Homo sapiens: one gene and its partner. The protein of the gene in region 1 interacts with the protein of each later gene in a pairwise test. Each region holds a gene or a part of one and is shown in the gene's direction. Other genes may lie near its edges.

Region 1 (3,500 bases):
TACAAATGATTTGGAGGTATGTTAACTCACGGTTCAGTGGAGAGGATAAGATACTCATTCTCTGCAAATAAGGAATTGAGGCTCAGCCAGGTAACATGACTTACTTGCCTCTCAAGGTCAAAGAGCTGGATGTAGCAGAATCAGGAATAAAACTGAGGTCTTTTAAATGTAACAAGGATCTGTTAGCCGAATGCACCATGTTGTTTTCTAATATTTCCTGCTACTTTCTAATCAATGTGCCTTAAACCATACCAACAATACAAAAGTCCATCATTAGCGGTTCTTTCTTTCATTCCAGGCCAGTTCACACCTTTCCCCATTTCCACCTACATCGTTATCTGAAAATCCTTCCTTCTGACATAAAGTCAATGATCATATGAATAAGTGATCACTATTTTTTGTAAAATAGTTCAAAATATGCCAGTACTTAAATCTTTTAAGTCATTTATTTGCCTTGTGAATAATCCTGTGATTGACAAAATAGTGTTTTGAAGCATTCTTGTCTCATAAGGATAGTGGTGGCATTTGAAAGTTGAAGAATGCTAAGAACAGTATCCCCAGTTCTAATACAACAGGCTTTATTCTGTTCTACAATTTTAATTCCATAAAATTGATAAAGGCAGTCACTCTATTCATTTTACAGAACATGAAGTATTTATTTTATGGACTCAAGTTGGAGTAACCAAAGAGGTTTGCACACAGTGACAGGATGCAGTGTTTGGGGCCCAGTTCTATTAGGCATTATAAATGCCCAAGATGAGAGTTGTAACCATGCAGAGTAGTGTTTTCTGAATATTTGGAAAGATTCTTCTGGTCTAGTACAAGATGGTAGAAGAGAGGGTTAGCCATCCTGGAGTATGAACTCGGCCTAAAACATTTCCAGTTTAGTTGATTTGTTGGAAGGACTTAACGTGGCAGGTGGAGAGGTCATCAGCAGCATCCCAGCAACTCCAAGTACAGGGAAGAAAGAAACGTACCAAACACACAAGGTGGATGGGGTATGGTGCTTGTTCTCATAACAGTAATAGCCAGCCTTCTAGAGCAGTGGCTCCTCAGGCAGCCATTCATACTTTATGTGTAGCATGCTTTGCAACAGTGAAGCTCCACATTTCCCACACCTCCATTTTCCTTACACTGTCTTTGCCCATTCTGCTTTTCCTCTTTCGCAATTCTTTTTGTGCTTTCCTTTTCTCTTTTGCCTCTGAATCCAAGATTTGGTGAGTTGGGTAGAGAAAGAGAGCTTCTGCATTTGTATAATTTCGCTTTGACTATAGCTTAAATGATTATAGAATTAGTATGTAAGATGACTTCTCCTTATACACCTATTATATCTAATGTTTATAATTCAGAAATATCTTGTGCCTTGAAGAATGGAATAAAATTGGCTGAGCTTGGATTCCTGTTGTGAAATGCAGGTGTGGAAATTCAAAACCATTGTTTACTCAGGCATCCAGTCTTAATCAAGTTAGAACATTTTACTTAAAATTAATATGATTAGGCCAGCCATGGTAGCTCAAACCTATAATCCCAGTGCTTTAGAATGCTGAAGCAGGAGGATCACTTGAGGTTGGGAATTTGAGACCAGCCTGGGCAATACAGCAAGACCCCGTGTTGCCCAGGCTGGTCTCAAATTAAAAAAAAGAAAAATTAAAAAATTAGTTGGGTTTGGTGGCCAGCGCCTGTAGTCCCAGCTACTCAGGAGGCCGAGGTGGGAGGATCACTTAAGCCCAGGAGGTCAAGGCTGCAGTGAGCTGTGATGTTACCACCGCACTCTAGCCTCGGCAACAGAGGGAGACCTGTCTTAAAAAAAAAAAAAAAAAAAATTAACATGATTAGCTTTGTTCACTAGGTGACTTTGTTTTGTTTTTTTAAACTAGGAAACATGTTCAACCAAATGGCAAAGTGGGTGAAACAGGACAATGAAACAGGAATTTATTATGAGACATGGAATGTAAAAGCCAGCCCAGAAAAGGGGGCAGAGACATGGTTTGATTCCTACGACTGTTCCAAATTTGTGTTAAGGACCTTTAACAAGTTGGCTGAATTTGGAGCAGAGTTCAAGAACATAGAAACCAACTATACAAGAATATTTCTTTACAGTGGAGAACCTACTTATCTGGGAAATGAAACATCTGTTTTTGGGCCAACAGGAAACAAGACTCTTGGTTTAGCCATAAAAAGATTTTATTACCCCTTCAAACCACATTTGCCAACTAAAGAATTTCTGTTGAGTCTCTTGCAAATTTTTGATGCAGTGATTGTGCACAAACAGTTCTATTTGTTTTATAATTTTGAATATTGGTTTTTACCTATGAAATTCCCTTTTATTAAAATAACATATGAAGAAATCCCTTTACCTATCAGAAACAAAACACTCTCTGGTTTATAAAACACCTTAATTCTACTGCTCTTTTTTCTCCAATCACCAGCATCTGTTTTTCAGGGGGTGATTTTACTTTTGTGAATTCCTTAGCCTTTCTTCCTTGGTGCATAAAGTTAAAATGCACATCAGCAGAATTGCTGCATATTAACATCTCAGGACTCTTCTCTTGTAAAGAAGCTGAAATTCGTACTATATTGGCCAAAGTGAGCGAGTTAGGTGATCTTGGTTTCAATTTCCGAGCCTTTGTTAATATGGAGAATTATGGTTCATATCAGTTATGTAGGACCTTTGGACCCAGGGTCCTACAGATAGATATGGTGTGCCCAGATTTTAAAAATACCTTCAAAAATAAAAAATACATTCAGTGACATTTTCATGGTGGGAGCTCTTCTTTCTGATATGGCAGTTACACTTTTTCACTTAAGTGCTTTAGTTTAGACTAACTTTACAACTTCTATAACTTTTGGAACCAAGTTTAGTATAGTCTGATTACATTCCATTCACCTAACTTTAGACATTCGTTTAGACACCATAACTGGAGTGATTGTGCTTCTAGATGTGGCAAATCCAGTGTTAACACATATTTCTGGCTGAGATTTTGGAACTAGCTAGTAACTGGCTTGTGTTCTTTAAGCATACTAACATCACTAAATCTTAGGATTTAGGATTGCTGTAAAGATGTAAGTTGTGTATGTTTGGCAGGTCACATTGAATGGCAGTGATAATGATTAATCAAAGAACAAATGTCATCCTTGATCTTGCCTAATGTAGTTTATGTGCCAAACTTTCCAGGGTTTTGTAGTCACCTAGATTTTAAGCTGATAGCATAGTGCTTCAGCGGTTCTTCTAACCGGGGTATGCAGGAACATGGCTGCAGACACGTTTGGGTAAACAGGCACCTTCTGACTTCTTCATTGTTTCCTGTAGTTCTCCCTCTTCCCACAAAGCTGTCAGCGCAGTGGAAGAGGTTGCACTTCTCCGAGAGAGGACAGGTTTCTGTTAAGATCACCAAGTAGCTGTGCTTTAATTAGAGCCAGACAAGCTTTCAAGGTCCTTTAAGTATTTGATGATCAACTGAACACGTTTCTATTCAAGGAGAAAACACCATTCAGTAAGA
Region 2 (3,776 bases), on another chromosome or scaffold:
GACTTCTTGAAAGGATGGTCCCTGGGTGGCTTAGGTAAGTGGCAGCAAGGCTGGCTAGCCAGGCTTAGGAATCTAGGACATGCCACAGGACCCCTGATGGGTGGGTGGCTGCGGCTGCCAGAACAGGACCCTGGATGTGGCTACTGGCATTGCTGCCATCATTGCTGGAATGAATTAGATACTGTCCTGCTTCAGAGTGCGCAGGCCCAGGCCCAGAAGAAAGCTTCTGATTGGCCCAGCATGGCTCAGCTCCACCAGGACACAGTTTGGGCGCCTCAGCTGACCTCACAATGCAAGGCAGGGCTGCCTCCCACCCAGCTCACAAACGTGGTCTCAGATGTTGGGTATCCCCCATGCCCCCGCCAAAAGCACTCCAGATGACAAAAATCCACTACAAAGCTCTTCTTTAAAAAGAAAGATTCTGAGAAGTTCCATCAAAAGAAGAAAAGAAGAAATGAAGGTGATTGATCACCATATTTGCTTTTTCATTTTTAATTTTTTTTTTTGAGATGGAGTCTCTGTCACCCAGGCTGGAGTGCAGTGGCATGATCTCAGGTCACTGCAACCTCCGCCTCCCGGGTTCAAGTGATTCTCCTGCCTCAGCCTCCCGAGTAGCTGGGACTACAGGTGTGCACCACCACACCTGGCTAATTTTTTTTGTATTTTTAGTAGAGACAGGGTTTCACCATGTTAGCCAGGATGGTCTCGATCTCCTGACCTCGTGATCCGCCCGCCTCGGCCTCCCAAAATGCTGGGATTACAGGCTTGAGCCACCACGCCCGGGCCATATTTGCTTTTAAACCAGTATTGAAATGCAGTTCTCTGGACTCCAGGCTCAAAATCATGTAAGGTCGCCCAGGCTGGAGTGCAGTGGTATGATTATGGCTCACTACAGGCTCAGCTTCCTGGACTCAAGTAATCCTCCTGCTTCAGACTTCCGAGTAGCTGGGACTACAGTTGTGCACCACTACGTTTGCTAATTTAAATTTTTTTTTTTTTTTTTTTTTTTTTTGTAGAGACAGGGCCTCTCTATGTTGCCCAGGCTGGTAGCAATTCTTCATTGAGTACCAACTGTGTTCCAGGCTCTGGGGATACAGAAATAAGCCAGGGACCTGCACAGCAGCTGGGGTAGATCAATTCAAAGCAATATGAAAAGGGCATTTGGGGAGCTTTCACCTTACATGTGTTATTTTCCAATGTGTTTGGGAAGCCTGAAGTGTCCTTGGAAAGTGACATGAATTGACTAGGCGGGTACTCCAGGATCAGAGTACTCCAGGAACAGAACTGTTCTCAAACTTTGTTTGAAGGATCAGTCCCCAGGAAAGCTTGTTAAAAATGCAGATTAATGGGTTTCATCCCAGAAATTAGGTCCATTAATAGTCTGCATTTCAACTAAACACCCCATTTTATCCCGAGACAGATGCTACTCTCAGTGGCTCTCGGACCTAGTGGGGTTTAGCTGGTAAATACTCAGAGCTTCTGTTTTTGGCACAACCTATTAAACCCGAGATAAAAAACTCTTCCTCTTTGACTTGACTTTAATCAGTTTCTAGTATTTCATAGTTAGTGAGATATTAATACTTTCTTAAAATGTACTTTAAAACTTCAGAGGGACCTACATTTTGGAGCAAGATGTAAAGAAATCTGGAAGTGCAACTGCAGTTGCTGTCTATCTCAAGTCATTGTCTCCCATCTTTGCTGCGGTGAGCAGTTATGTTTCACTTCACTGGGAATTTCCCTTCCCCTGCTTTGTCACTGAGGGAGTTGGAGAGCCTGTTTGTTCATAGTTCTTCCCTTGGCAGTTTCTCTCTGTCCTGGGCTGAGGTTTGGTGGAATTACCAGAAAGTGGGCCTTCTCAGCATCTGAGCCTTTAATCCTTCCAGCTGCTGTGCTGGAGGCTTAGCTCTCTGCCTGTCCTTTAGCAAAAAAAAAAACCAAGATAAAGTGTACATGTGGTGTGTTGTGCTTGCAGTAGATGTTTGAAGGGAGCCCTTTGGAAACACCAGGGTCAAGGTGTCTATTGTGGATGTGACGGTGGGCGTAACCTGAAGCGTGGGCCTGAGGTTAGTACTGGCAGCCACTTGGGATCTGAGCAGCCCATGATTTGACAAAGGAAGAATTTGGGGCCCTTGTATTGGTAGCTTTGTGCAGGAGTAATTGGAGTGGGACAGGACTTAGAAGATGAGGCAATGGAGGGATTAGATATGAATTAACATCTTTGTTCAAATAGCTCAAGAAATCCCATCTGTTGTCCAAAGCTTTCTTTGACTTGGAATATTGGTAGTGGGTCCTCTGGCTTCTTGCAAAGTATGTCACCTTCTTCATCATCCCCCTTCCCTTTCTTACAGTATGTGTTTCAGGAGCACCCTGTACTTATCTTGAAAGTTAGTAAGTATGTATCTAGCTCACAAAGTGACAGCAGCTTGCTCTTGCTCCAGGACACTTAATACAGAGAGGAAGAGTGGTACACTTGGGATCCTTCCAGGTTCTGTGCTGATTTGCCTAGTCTCATGAAACCGCACAAGGAAATAACATATTTTGGCTTCTACGCCAGCACTTGCCCTGTAGCTCTGGAGCAGGCTGTGTTTGGTTTCCACCCACCTACCTGGATTAGGCTGAAGGCCCTGCTCTAAAGCTTTGCAGCCTCCTGTCTGGGGCACTTCTTGCTGCAGGCAGGTTACATGCATTGGTGACTCTGCTGCTATTTCTTTCCCTGCCAGGGATGGTGCCATGAGTGAAACAAGCTGCTCAGCAGGCACTTACTAAACACCGACTACGTGCCATGCCCAGTGTTAAGGTCTGGGGATTGAAAGAAGAGTAGGACAGAGTCCATCTTGGAGGCACTTTCTGTCCCATTCCCTTCCCAGATGCTGGAGCCACAGCTGCTTTTAGGATTCTTGTGTCTTTCTCCGTCTCCCAAGGGGTAGGTAAGAGTCTCCCTCTGCCCTGGCTTTCATCTCTGAGACCCCTAGTTGTAGAGGTGGTGACTTAGGGTGAAGATTTCCATCAGGATTACTTGGTAAGCTTATTAGAAAGACAGGTTCCAGTGTTGCACATGTGTCCAGCCTCAAACGGTGTGGTCCCTAGACTTGAGGCCATGCCCTTCTACTTTGGATTCGGGGTGAGGTGGAGAGGGGGATGTTTGAAATGAGATTAGTGAGTAAATAAGTAGAATATAAGGCAGAGTAAGATATATCTCCAGCGGCAAAGAGAACAACACACACTTGGAGAAGAAATAAGCATATAAGCATGTACTGGATTGCTGGGGCCCCAGTGGCTCGTACTAGAGCCTGAGAGGGAGGGCACTGAAGGGACAGTGTCTTGATGTCATAGTTAGATCTTGGACTTTGAAGGCAAACTAGTGGGTTTGACTCTTGGCCGCATGGTTAATTGAAGGGGTGGGTTGCCCCTCCACACCTGTGGGTGTTTCTCGTTAGGTGGAACGAGAGACTTGGAAAAGAAAAAGACACAGAGACAAAGTATAGAGAAAGAAATAAGGGGGCCCAGGGGACCAGCGTTCAGCGTACGGAGGATCCATCCTGGCCTCTGAGTTCCCTTAGTATTTATTGATCATTCTTGGGTGTTTCTCAGAGAGGGGGATGTGGCAGGGTCACAGGATAATAGTGGAGAGAAGGTCAGCAGATAAACACGTGAACAAAGGTTTCTGCATCATAGACAAGGTAAAGAATTAAGTGCTGTGCTTTAGATATGCATACCCATAAACATCTCAATGCCTTACAGAGCAGCATTGTTGCCCGCATGTCCCACCTCCAGCC

Evidence for each region. Proteins that work in one complex are often made in the same cells at the same time.
Region 2: the proteins of CLN5 (region 1) and PROM1 interact in a protein complementation assay, tested with the Homo sapiens proteins (one study listed by IntAct).

The regions. Positions count from the first base shown.
Region 1 is NC_000013.11:76,998,581-77,002,080, forward strand, and holds part of CLN5 (bis(monoacylglycero)phosphate synthase CLN5), read left to right. Parts: intron 1-1,877; coding exon 1,878-2,389; 3' UTR 2,390-3,500. UniProt on the Homo sapiens protein: Exhibits palmitoyl protein thioesterase (S-depalmitoylation) activity in vitro and most likely plays a role in protein S-depalmitoylation.
Region 2 is NC_000004.12:16,077,248-16,081,023, reverse strand, and holds part of PROM1 (prominin-1 isoform 1 precursor), read left to right. Parts: intron 1-2,720; exon of another isoform or gene 2,721-3,776. UniProt on the Homo sapiens protein: May play a role in cell differentiation, proliferation and apoptosis. Binds cholesterol in cholesterol-containing plasma membrane microdomains and may play a role in the organization of the apical plasma membrane in epithelial cells.